3 separate regions of the Homo sapiens genome follow, and all the other regions are reported to be linked to region 3. The links are microRNA targets in miRTarBase. Many come from high-throughput screens and were not tested one by one. Region 3 holds a microRNA gene; each other region holds the end of a gene's coding sequence.

Region 1 (4,000 bases), not on the chromosome of region 3:
AGAGCAACCACACCGTGGGCCCCTTGCTGGCGGCTGCAGCTGGTGCCCCAGCCCCTCTGTACCTCGGGGGCCTGCCTGGTGAGTGCGGCCTTGATCAAGGGTGGGGGAGCTGCCCCTCAGGACTAGGTGCTGCGTAACCTACCACCCTCCCCCCACCCCTCCACCCCCTGCCCCCTCCCACCCTCCTCCCACCCCCCTACCACCCTCCTATGATGTGGAATGAGACAGGGGCTGGGTGGGGCACTGACGTTTGGGAAGGGCCTGTGGGTCTCTAGCTGCCCACCAACCAGCCTTCTTCCATCTTCCCTGTGCCCCCAGAGCCCATGGCCGTGCAGCCCTGGCCCCCCGCCTACTGCGGCTGCATGAGGAGGCTGGCGGTGAACCGGTCCCCCGTCGCCATGACTCGCTCTGTGGAGGTCCACGGGGCAGTGGGGGCCAGTGGCTGCCCAGCCGCCTAGGACACAGCCAACCCCGGCCCCTGGTCAGGCCCCTGCAGCTGCCTCACACCGCCCCTTGTGCTCGCCTCATAGGTGTCTATTTGGACTCTAAGCTCTACGGGTGACAGATCTTGTTTCTGAAGATGGTTTAAGTTATAGCTTCTTAAACGAAAGAATAAAATACTGCAAAATGTTTTTATATTTGGCCCTTCCACCCATTTTTAATTGTGAGAGATTTGTCACCAATCATCACTGGTTCCTCCTTAAAAATTAAAAAGTAACTTCTGTGTAACCGAATGAATGTTGACTTAAATACGGAGAGAGTGAGTCTCAAGACAGATCTGGAACCGGCCTGGACAGAGGCACCAAACTCTTCCTGGGGTGACCGTTTTCCGTTGTTAGGTCAAATAACTAACTGTCTCTGGGACCCTACAGCAGCTCCCCACGCTAGCACCTGTCCAGCCGAAACTCCCTTTGGGCAAAGAAACTAAGCATTGGCAGGTAAAAGAAAAGACTTTATTAATAATCAGTGGGTGGGAGGTGAGGGTGTGCAACGCACTGCAAGCGCCCAGTTCCTCGGAGGACGGCGCGTGGCTCAGTCCAGGCTCATGTCCTCCTCTTCGTCCTTCTTGTCCTTCGTGTCGCCCTCTTTCTGCTCGGGCTTGGCGTTGTTCTGCATGGCTTTGGCAAACGCTTCCACATCTAGAACACGTTAAAGACACAAGGTGGTGTCTAACCCTTGCCCAGAACTGGGGATCAAAGCGATGGGATCAAGGGCAGAAGGGCTGTGACCTTTACCCCCTCAGCCCCACTTCTGCAGATCCAGGGGGACAGGAATGGACCCTGCCCCTGGCTCTGGCCTGGAGGTGCAGGCGCAGCCACTTACCGCCCTTGTTGGCGGCCTCCACAGCCTCTGCAGGCAGACCGAACTGGCACATGAGGGGGCCCAGCTGCCCCGAGGCCAAGGCTGCGCTGAACATGCCCAGGGCCTGCAAGAAGAGCCAGGCGAGGGCTGAGCTCCAACCCGGGCTGCACCCCAGAGCCACACTGCTCAGCTGCCAGCTCTGCGGGTCAGGCACATGAAGCACTGGCCATGGTGAAGGTGGGGCAGGGCCTCCTCCTCCCCCCTGCCCACTCCCTGAGCACACAGTGGAGGACACCCTGGGCCCGGCCTCTACCTGCTGGAACTGGGGCGAGGTCAGGGTATTCTGGATCTCATCCGCGGTCTGCGGCAGCGACTCCCCAGATGGCAAGTAGGGAAGCAGGCGCTCCTGGACATCCGCGTTGGCGAGGATGGGAGCCATTATCTCCGGCGTCAGCACACTGGCCAGGTCCACTGGGGCACAAGAACACGGCCATCAGCTCGATGACAGCCTAAGTGCCCACATGGAAGGCATGCAAGCAGGGACTCAGCCCATGGCCCCAGCACCCCAGGCGCGCACACTAGGCAGATGCCTTGGAAGGTGAGCGTGCGAGGGTCAGCAGGCCCCATGCCCCCCACCCAGCTCCAGGCGACAGCACACGTTACCTTGCTGGCCGCCTGCTGGCCCGGCTGGTACGTTCATCGTGGCCAGGATGCTCTGGAGGTCGCTCAGCTGGATGGGCTGGGTCGGGCTGGCTGCTGTGCTGGCTCCATTCCCGGAACTGGGCGCGGGGCTCGGGCTAGTTGCTGAGGCAGCTGCTGGAGCAGAAGGGGCTGGGGTGGCACGGGTGGAAGAGGTGGTGGATGACGGGGTGACCGCTGCCGACTGGCTCCGGGAGCTGCGAAGAGAGAGGGCACCGCTGGAGCGGACACGCCCCACACGGCAGGGCCTACTCGCAGGGTCCAGGGTGCTGGGCCAGGATTCCCCACTGCCCCTCCCTTAACACCGTGGCACCTGCGTGGCAGGAGCGATGAGGCTCACCTGGAGGAGGAGCTGCTCCCTGGAGGCCCACTGCTCCCCAGTAAGCTGGCCAGGCCAGGTCCAGTCAGGGCCCCCAGCCCACCTGCGAGGGGCAAGGAAATGCGAGCTCAGGATGCCCTCTAGCCCACCAGAAAGAGCCTGGCCCCTCCCCAGGCCAGAGGAGCAGGAATTCCCAACACCAAAGCCAGGAAGAAGCGGGGCGGTGGGGACCCACAGGCCTGGAGGAGCGGCGTGGGGCGGGTGGACACTTGCGGCTGTGTTCTGGAAGCAAGGTCATTTCTGTTCCATCCCATTACACAATTCATGTGCTTAGATTAGAAGATTCAGTCCAGATCCCACCCAAAGGGACAAGCATTTCTGAAGGGCCAAGCACACGGGTCTGCACTCCATGAGCTGGCAGCAGGCAGGCAGCCATGTAGGGCCAGGGGACCCAGGGCGCAGGAACCCCAGCTCCCTCCAGTCCTCCAGCCCCACCGCTCGGCCAGCCACCCTCCTCTGAAGTACCCAGCTGGGGTCCTCACCAGGGGCCCAGAAGCCCTCGCCTACCCAGCTCTAGCCACAGGCAAACAAGCGCATTCCCAAAGGGGAACCAGCTTGCGGACACACAGGCTCCCCGACACTACGCAGACAGAGCCAGCAGAAGTTTAAAGGAAACAGAGACCGGGCCTCAAAGCATTCCCAGCAGAAGCTGCCCGAGAGCCCGGGTGGCGCACGTTACCCAGTCCTCCAAGGCCGGCTGGTCCGATGAGCTGCATGAGCTGGCTGTGGCTCATGTTTCCCAGCAGGCTCTGCAGGCCACCCTCACCTGGAAAACACTGCAGCTCAGGCGGGCCTGCCCCAGCCAGATCCACGCGGGCCCCACCGCACTGCCTGCGCCTCTGCTGAGCACCGCACTCGGCTGCCCCTGAACCCTACAGGGGGCACCACTTGAAGTGAGGCGACGGTGGGATGCAGACCCGTCCTACCCCGTGAAGGTGGGAGTGGGGAGTGACCCAGGGAGCTCACAGGGTCTCTAACTTTTAGAATCTTCTATTTCCACTTCCAAACAACCTGTGCTGAGGGGGCGAGTCATCCACAGTAGACTCTGGCCTCCCAGGAAACCCTGAGCTCACGTGACACATGTGACAGTTACCGCCTAGCGCAGAGAGTTCGTGGCCGCTGCTTCCGCTGGCCCCCAGCGCCCCAGGCATCGGGGGGTTGTTCAGATACTCGTTGACTTTCCGGCAATGCTCCTCATCCTGGTCTGTCTTGGGTTCCTGCAAGAGGAAGGGCATGTAAGGGCAGGAGCTGGCGCCAGCTCACCCAGGGCCACCACAGCCATCCTCTGACCTGGCTTCCAGGTGAGGGACCTGAGACGCAGAGGCGCGTGTGCCTGGCCACACAATGCTGAGGAGACAGGACCCGGCCCAGCAGGTGAGGGGACGGCAGTGGCGCCTCCTGAGCACGATGCTCTGCGCCCTGTCCCCATCCGCCGCAATCCCGGGTGTGCCCTGTCCCCCTCCGCCCATTTCACAAATGGGGAGCCTAGAGCTCCGAAGGCACTTAGCTGCTGCCAGACCAAGCCCTCTCACCCTCCTGCCCTCTGGGGTGCGGTTCTTTACACACCCGTCTCCTTCCTTCAACCAGTGGAAGGCAGCGAACTGGCCCGCTCAGCACACC
Region 2 (4,000 bases), not on the chromosome of region 3:
AGGTCACACCGTCTTATCAGCAATTTACACCCCAATGAAAATAAACTCCCAGACCATTTTGACAGCAGGTTTGTGTAGGGGGAAGGGAACCAAGTCCCATGGAGGGACAGGGACCAATCTCCAAAATGCAGGGCTTGTGAACCAGCCAGTCAGAGCAGCAGAAGAGGACCCGCCCCTCCGTAACAAGAGGTTCTCTCGGAGGTGGCTGGGACACCCTACCTCCGCCGGAAGGTCCCAGAGAGGTAAAGACCTGGAGTTCAGGGCTTCTTTCCTGGCAGATGGATGGGGAGCTGCACATTGCTGGGTTTCTGCAACATGAACCTGCCTGCAGCACCCCCACCCCACCCCCATGGGGAGGGCTTTTTTAATTTTTATTTTTTTGAGACAGAGTCTCACTCTGTCACCCAGGCTGGAGTGCAGTGGCACAATCTCGGCTCACTGCAACCTATGCCTCCTGGGTTCAAGCGATCCTCCTGCCTCAGCCTCCTGAGTAGCTGGGATTACAGGTGCGCACCACCATGCTCGCCTAATTTTTGGTATTTTTAGTAGAATCAGAGTTTCACCATGTTAACCAGGCTGGTCTCGAACTCCTGACCTCAGGCGATCCGCCCTCCTAGGCCTCCCAAAGCGCTGGGATTACAGGTTGGCCCCGCCGGAGAGGGCTCTTAAAAGGGCAATGTCAGAGGCCGAGGCATCAGCCCCACCAGGACCTGGCCAAGTCCAGGCTGCAAGGAAGCACTCCCCTTTTGTACCTGGGAAGAGCTGCTGGGGAACCCCATGTTGGGAGGTAACTGGGAGAGCGGGGCAGGCCCCTCATCCCGGCACAGGCTCCGACACGCAGTACATTTGTCTGGCGCCCATCCCAGCTCTGCCTGTCAGACTCATCCTGGGAGTGCAGCCAGGGCCGCCCCCGCCGCGTACCCCCTGGGGAAGGATGGGGACTCGGGGAGAGGAGGCATTCTCAGGACCTGGGGTAAACCGGAAAAGCTTCAGGGGAGGAAAAGCAGGACAGACGGCTAGGAGAATGTTGGTTCCCAGGAGTGAGGTTTCAGTGTTTGGCTAATGAGCTGCCCTGCCCAGCCTGGACTGTGAGCGCAGGCAGGTCCCTCGGCCTTACGTTGGGTCCCCAGTTACCAGCCTCTTTAGAGTTTCTAGAAGTCTGGCTTATGGTTGTCTCTCTTGGTGGAGAGGCCAGACTGTTGGTCCCAGTGTTTCCTCACTCCCTGCCTAAAGCACCCAGACCTGCATCTTGGGCCCTGAATACCTGGGTGTGGGAACCCAGGGTTGGTGAGGGACCCAGGGCTCTGACTCACTCCACTAGGCCTCTGGAGGGTGTTTGCTAACTGAGGTAACCTGGGTAGCTGAGGTTGGAGATGGGGCAGGTCAAGGTGCCAGAGATGAGGGCATCAGGCGTGGGATGCGGAGGCAACTACCAGGGTGGAGTCAAGGCTATTGGGCCTGTTCCCAACTGCTCGGCTTCCAGGTGGGTCGGCCCCTCCTAAATGAAGCTTGCATCAGCCCCATCCCACTGCCTCAGGGAGGGAGAGTGTCTGGTTTTCCCTCTCTGAAGGAAGGCGAACCACACCTTTCCCAACAGTTATTTGTGAGCAGGAACTGTGTTACCTTCTTTCTGTAAACCCTGCTCCTAATGGTGCCTGGCACAAGGTAAGCACTCGGTGACCGTGTGTGCCCTCCTGCTGTTGTGCTCTTGGGTATGACCTGTGGGGAGGGACCTCAGCCACAGTCATCCTTGCCTTCACTACCATTGACTTCCTCTCCTCTGGCTTCTGGAAGCATGGGGTCCCTTATAGTTACTTTCTGCTAACAAGCCAGTTTGTCCATACAGCCATCTTCCTAGCCAGGCTCCTACACCAGTCCCTACACGGGCAGGAGGAAGGCTGGCAGGGAAAGCTGGGCTGCCCAAGGCAGGAGGGTCTCTCTGCACAAAGCAGCTGAGAGTCCAGGCAGCCAGCTCCAGCAGGTAAGTCAGCTGGGTCCTCAGGGACTCAAAGCCCCAGCTTCTGCCCTCCCACAGAGCTCTCAGGGCCATGGCAAAAAGCAGAGCCTCCTACTGGTAGGAAGGTGACAGGCACCAGGAGCCTAAGCAGGTAGGCGTGGGGAGTGGTGCAGGCAGCTGTAGGGACTTCTAAGACAGAGCTAAGGCAGAGCAGGGGCGTTCAGGGCCCTGTGAGAGTTCCCAGTGGGCTTCTGGAATGGTATAGGGGGTGGGGCAAAACTAGCCTCCTGCACACTGTGTACGCTGCCTTTCTTCAAACCAAATAGTTGAGGCCACAGGAAATGTGAGTTTCTGGTCCTTCTGAATTACAAATGGGAGCAGCTTGCTCTTTGTCCCCTTGTCCCGGCTTTGTTATCCCAGAGCTGGGGCAATGGGCTACGGCCCAGGCGGGTCTGCCTGTGGGCCCCCAGCTGGCATAGCCAGGCAAGACAAGAGAGCCACTGTCACCCCTTCACGCACCTACCTCAGTTTTGACAGGGTTTCCAGCAGCAAGATTAATAGGATCAATCTCAAGCCCCCAGTGGAAAATGGAGCACATGGCCCCTTTCCTTGGTACTATGCTCCAGCAGGCCCAAGTCGCTGCTCAGGGACTAAGGAAGCTGAGGTGAGATAAAGGCTCCTAAGTGACAGCCCAGTTCACATTCCAGCTCTCAACCTCCCAAAGAAACATAAAGCACTGCCGAGGAGTCAGGACTTCCGACCTCCATCAGGCCACGTTGTCTCATCTCCCTTACCGTCCTTGTATTTCTGTCTTCCAAAGGATGGAATAAGCATAATCATATAATCATGTCCCCACCCTACCTTCTGGGACCATCACAAAGATAAAAGAGATCATCTATAGGGAGTATTTTAACCTCCTAGGAGAGAGGCACTAAACTAACAGAAGCTGTTATTAAAGTAAAGGGTTTGTAGATTGCAGATGAAAGGCAGCAGGTAAATAAACAGCCTGAACATCAGCCTCCCCTGAGAAAGGAACTGGCTATTAGGGCAACAGTGGGAGCTCCACAAAGGGGCTACAACATTTTCTCCTCTCCTCTGCCCTGCTGGCTATCCCAATCCTTTGGAGGTGCAGCAGCAAGTTGGTATGCAGTTGGTCTCCCCATGTGGGGATGGCTGTAACGAGAGAAACTGCTGTTAATAAGTCCCCAACCCATGCTAGGCATAGAAGCTAGGGGCTCTTCTGGATTAAATACAGCCTCTCGCTTTCCACAGAGTCCTTTGTAGGGAACAGAAGTGCTAAGAGGCTTTTAAAACAGTTCTGGTCTCTAAGCTAGTCCTACCTCAATGATTTCAAGCAGGAATATATTTGTAAAGGAGGATCCTGGCCCTTGCCCTGCAAGCTTTTGTGATTCAGACTCCATCTTCCACCTTCCCCTTGAGCTTTTTCTAAGTGTACCCCTCCCTTCGCTTACCTGTTCAAAGGCTCTGTGACTTGCTAACTGGAGGGAGCAGCCTAATTTGGAAGGAAAAGCAGAAGTGTATATCAGGGAGAACCTCAGAGGCGGGGTTCAAGCCCGGGGAAGAAGACTGAGGAAGAGTCCTAAGCCCTCCCCAGAGATGCTTTATTACATGGTTTCATCAGTCATCAATGATGGGTCCCTATGCCCATGCGAGGAGACAGGAACATCTGTGTGGTACATGGCACTGTTCCCCTCTCAGCTACGCAGTCAGATGGGGGCAGGGGGATGAATGGGTGCTTGGCTTCCCTGCTGTTGGGCAGGCTCTGAGATCTCAGCAGACAGAAATGAAAGCCTGGCAAATAGGGAGGCAGGAATGTTCAAGCATCGGTGACCTCCATGTTCTGCAGCCTGTTTTCTAGGGTGACGTCTCTTGCTGCTGCTTTCTTTTTGCTGCCCTCATGTTGCTTCTTCTGCTTCTTTGATGGCTCCTGCTCAATGGGCGCAGGCTTCACAAAGGGGATCAGTTCTTGCAGTCCTGGGAGGGAAGAGCCAACCAAATGACCTGTTGTTTCTCAGTGAGTCA
Region 3 (4,297 bases):
GAGGCAGGAGGCAGCAGGGCCGGATGGTGGGCTGCAGAGGTGGAAGGAACAGGACAGTCTGTTCTGGGGGTGCTGGCTGTGGGGGACAGAGGCCAGGCCACAAAGCAGAATGGTGGGTGGGCCAGGAGGAGGTGGGAGCCTTTTTCAAAAGGCTTTCAGGGACTTTTTATATTTAATGATTGAAACAAAAGATATCCAAAACCGCAGTTCCTGAGAACCACTTGTTCTCGCCCTGGTTCCTCTCCTTGGGCTTGACCTTGGCCTCCTGCCGGGCCTGGCAGCGGACAGCAGTCTCCCTGCTTCCCAGGCTGGGCGAGGGAGAGCGTGGGTCCCCAGGAACGGGGGAGGTGGTGCGGCTGGCTTTAGGATGCCCATTCTGGAACCTTCTGGTGGAAGAAAGCAGGGGATCAGTATAGTATGGTTGATCCACACACTCCAGACCCTCTCCTGGCTGTGCAGCTGGTCTGATCTGGGCTCAGAGGCTGCCACTGCTCAGTGCTCCCCTGGGTAATTTTGCAGGAGGCCAGGAGGGTTCCTGGCAGTTAGTGCCACCCACACGGAGAAATTCAGAGCCATATAAACGGGTCTCCAGGGCCTGGAGGGACTGCACATCCTGGGCCTGCGGCGCAGTGTAGACCTGGGAGGATGGGCGGCCTGCTGCTGGCTGCTTTTCTGGCTTTGGTCTCGGTGCCCAGGGCCCAGGCCGTGTGGTTGGGAAGACTGGACCCTGAGCAGGTACAGTCCTCCTGGGGGTGGGGAGAGCTGGTCCTCGGGGGCCAGCCCCTCCTTTAAGGCCACACAGCTTCTGGGCCCCCCAGGGCTAGCCCAGACCAGCATGAGCAGTGGGGAATTAGTTGGGCCAGCCCTTGGGGAGTCCCACAGGCAGGAGCCTCAGGGCAGGAGGGGTGGATGCTGGAGGGTTGGAGGCTGGAGGGCTGGAGAATTGGAGGCTGGAGACTGGAGGTTGCAGGGCTGGAGGGTGTAGGGTTGGAGAACTGGAGGCTGGAGGGCTGGAGGCTGTAGGGCTGGAGAACTGGAGGCTGGAGGCTGCTGGGCTGGAGGCTGGAGGGCTGTAGAACTGGAGGCTGGAGGGCTGGAGGCTGGAGGGCTGCAGAACTGGAGGCTGGAGGGCTGGAGAGCTGGAGACTAGAGGCTGCAGGGCTGCAGGCTGGAGGTTGGAAGGCTGGAGGGCTGGAGCCTAGAGGCTGTAGGGCTGGAAGGCTGGAGGCTGGAGGGTTGGAGGTCTGGGGGGTTGGAAGCTGGAGGCTGGAGGGCTGGAGAACTGAAGGCTAGAGGCTGCAAGGCTGGAAGGTTGGAGGCTGGAGGGCGGGAGGGTTGGAGACTGGAGGCTGGAGGGCTGGATGGTTGGAGGGTGGAGGCTGGAGGCTGCAGGGCTGGAAGGCTGGAGGCTGGAGGGTTGGAGGCTGGAGGCTGGAGGGCTGGATGGTTGGAGGGTGGAGGCTGAGGCTGGAGGTTTGGAGGCTGGAGGCTGAGGCTGGAGGGTTGGAGGCTGGAGGCTGGAGGCTGGAGGGCTGGCGGCCCTAACGGGAGCCGCCTCAATGCAGCTTCTTGGGCCCTGGTACGTGCTTGCGGTGGCCTCCCGGGAAAAGGGCTTTGCCATGGAGAAGGACATGAAGAACGTCGTGGGGGTGGTGGTGACCCTCACTCCAGAAAACAACCTGCGGACGCTGTCCTCTCAGCACGGGTGAGTGGGCGGGTCCTGCCAGGCCTTCCCGCAGGCAGGACTGTGGCTCAGCCACATCATGTACTTTGCACATCTGCTCCCGGGCACCGCGGCCTGGGGGCTTCCCACGGCCCCTCTGCACCCCCGTCACTTTTCCCACTGGGCTCTGTGCAGAGCCACCAGCCCTCTGCCCAGCTACTCACATCTGTGTCCCTGGGGCCTCCAGGTGGCACTCCCACCTTCAATACCGCGGCGGGCACTGCTCTGACTATGCTCCTTCATGCATCCCTGTCCTGGGTCATCTGGGCTGCAGGCTGTGGTCAGAGCTGGGGAAGCCTGTCCTCTCAGCAGGCCTTTTTCGGGAATTCTGTTTAAAGGAGGATAATGCATTCGGACCTAAGAACCACTGGTTCTTTCATAACATAAATCCCCAAACAATATGGTCATGGACGCTGTTGGCCAGACTGGCCTTGTGGCCTCAGGCAGGCGCACCCGACCACATGCATGGCTGGTGGCGGCGTGCAGGGGTCGGGTGGGCCAGGCTGTGGGGCGGCCGTGCTACACAGGGGACACCTACAGGGCAGCCGGGCTGTGGGGGTAGCCGTGCTGGGGCAGGAGTCGGTGCCCGCCTCCCTTCACAGAAGAGTGGCCTGCTGGGTGGCGTGGTGGGTGTCTACCCCCTGGCAGGCTGGCGACAGAGCCCAGGCCTGAACCACTGAGCCAGGTACGGGGCCCAGAGAGAAGAACCTGCCCTCCTCACCAGCGTGCCTTCCCCCTGCACCTGCGCCTGCAGGGTATGGGCAGGGGCCCCACTGCACCCCCCGGGCCAGGCCTGGCCTCAGGGCGAGCTGGGACCAAGGGGCTCCAGGCTGAGGTGGCAGCTCCCACGTGGCTTTCCTAGTTCTTCTTGCTGTTCCTCCCGCATGGACTCAGCCTCAGTTTCCTTCCTTGGCAAACACCATTGCACCTTTGCTGGGTTTTGCTCACTCTGGGGACTGACCACTTAGGGAGCGCCGGCCCCTTCCCCCGAGTCGCAGGCAAACCCCCACCCCGCCCCATCCTTCCCCTGAGTCGCAGGCGAACCCCCACCCCACCCCATCCTTCCCCTGAGTCACGGGCGAACCCCCACCCCGCCCCATCCTTCCCCTGAGTTGCGGGCGAACCCCCACCCCGCCCCATCCTTCCCCTGAGTCACGGGCGAACCCCCACCCCACCCCATCTTTCCCCCGAGTCGCGGGCGAACCTCCCGTCTGTCGAGTCTCCTGTTGTGTCCTCAGCAGCATTCAGCGTTCCTGGTGGAGATCTGGCACTGAGGATCTCTCAGGAAGTGAATGGGAGTGTCCGCCCCTCTCAGGACTCCCACGCCGTCCACTCTCCGAGAACAGGTTTCCGGGCATCGGGGCATCTGGCAGAAGATGGAAGCTCTGGCCTCACTGCTGGCTGGCCTGGCCTGGACTCCTGAGCTCCGTCTCCTCTCACCGGGCCCCGGGGTCTTGACCCTGAGTGGGTGACAGGCCCCTTCTTTTCCAGGCTGGGAGGGTGTGACCAGAGTGTCATGGACCTGATAAAGCGAAACTCCGGATGGGTGTTTGAGAATCCCTGTGAGTCTGACGGCCACGGCCTCACCCAGGCCGTTCTTCCCTGCAGCATCCCCAGGCCCCCTGCGGGCAGGGACGGAGGGCTGACTCCGCTCCCGAGAGCCAGGAGGCTACAGGTTCTGGTCTTGGGATTGCTGCCCATCCTGAGGGTGAAGAGAAGCCCCTGGACAGAGGATTGGAACCTTGTTCCCAGCAGGCTCAGACACCAGTGAGGTCCAGCCAAGGTCCCCATAGGTGCAGAGGGCGAGGGGCCTGTTTAGTGGCTGTCTACAGGTACAGGGCTGGGCTGGTGTGACCCAGCCGCTCCTCGTTCACACCTGGGACAGGCTGGGGCAGTGCTTGTCTGTCTGTCCGTCAGTGTCTGAAAGCCCCTTGATGCTGGCACCAGGTGGGGTCGGGGGTGGGGGACAAAGCTTGGGGGCTCTGGGTGTGCTTGGAGGGGTCTCCTGGGGAGGGGGGCTCTCACTTGAATTGGCCCCTCTGTCCCTGTGGCCAGCATCAGCTCAGCGGCCCCTGGATGGATACAGCAGCTGCCCTCCCCTGAGGCGGGGGGTTTTGTTTCCTAGCAATAGGCGTGCTGGAGCTCTGGGTGCTGGCCACCAACTTCAGAGACTATGCCATCATCTTCACTCAGCTGGAGTTCGGGGACGAGCCCTTCAACACCGTGGAGCTGTACAGTAAGTGTGCTGTGCGGGGCCCACGTAGGGAGCTGTGTGGTGCGTGGGCCACTCGGGGCCCACGTTGGGAGCTGTGTGGTGCGTGGGCCGCTTGGGGGCCGCGTGGGGAGCTGTGTGGTGAGTGGGCCGCTCGGGGGCCATGTGGGGAGCTGTGTGGTGAGTGGGCCGCTTGGGGCCACATGGGGAGCTGTGTGGTGAGTGGGCCGCTCGGGGGCCATGTGGGGAGCTGTGTGGTGGGTGGGCCGCACAGGACCACATGCAGGCCAAGTTCCCCCACCTTGAGGCTCGCTGCACTGGAGGTGGCTTTGGAAGGACCGGGGCCAGCATCCCAGGGCAGG

Evidence for each region. The annotated mature microRNA hsa-miR-6722-3p reads UGCAGGGGUCGGGUGGGCCAGG and lies in region 3 at 2,205-2,226, shown strand. An mRNA with a match to its seed (bases 2 to 7 or 8) in the 3' UTR can be bound and repressed. Matches are read on the target gene's strand: a 7mer-m8 pairs with bases 2 to 8, a 7mer-A1 pairs with bases 2 to 7 and ends in A, and an 8mer does both.
Region 1: the mRNA of LAMA5 is a reported target of hsa-miR-6722-3p. Seed matches in the 3' UTR shown: 8mer at 488-495.
Region 2: miRTarBase lists SARS1 as a target of hsa-miR-6722-3p. Seed matches in the 3' UTR shown: 7mer-m8 at 3,695-3,701.

What each region holds. Positions count from the first base shown.
Region 1 is chr20:62,305,794-62,309,793 of GRCh38, reverse strand. LAMA5 (laminin subunit alpha 5) reads left to right here. Exons shown (of 80, transcript NM_005560.6): 79 at 1-78; 80 at 319-729. The coding sequence ends at 458. It overlaps ADRM1 (ADRM1 26S proteasome ubiquitin receptor), which reads right to left. Exons shown (of 10, transcript NM_007002.4): 4 at 3,474-3,597; 5 at 3,060-3,146; 6 at 2,342-2,423; 7 at 1,966-2,198; 8 at 1,616-1,773; 9 at 1,324-1,426; 10 at 932-1,139. The coding sequence ends at 1,033. Among named protein-coding and RNA genes, the nearest start is that of ADRM1, 4.8 kb to the right of the region's middle. RefSeq lists an enhancer at 3,505-4,000.
Region 2 is chr1:109,237,683-109,241,682 of GRCh38, reverse strand. It overlaps SARS1 (seryl-tRNA synthetase 1), which reads right to left. Exons shown (of 11, transcript NM_006513.4): 11 at 3,501-3,952. The coding sequence ends at 3,795. Among named protein-coding and RNA genes, the nearest start is that of CELSR2, 9.9 kb to the left of the region's middle. RefSeq lists silencers at 542-836, 1,944-2,358 and enhancers at 847-1,542, 3,483-4,000.
Region 3 is chr9:136,744,832-136,749,128 of GRCh38, reverse strand. It overlaps MIR6722 (microRNA 6722), which reads left to right and starts at 2,159; the gene lies at 2,159-2,236. It overlaps LCN6 (lipocalin 6), which reads left to right and starts at 604. Exons shown (of 7, transcript NM_198946.3): 1 at 604-735; 2 at 1,566-1,705; 3 at 3,215-3,285; 4 at 3,849-3,959. The coding sequence starts at 646. LOC100128593 (a long non-coding RNA gene) reads right to left here and starts at 2,968. Exons shown (of 3, transcript NR_033913.1): 1 at 2,928-2,968; 2 at 557-2,051; 3 at 1-383.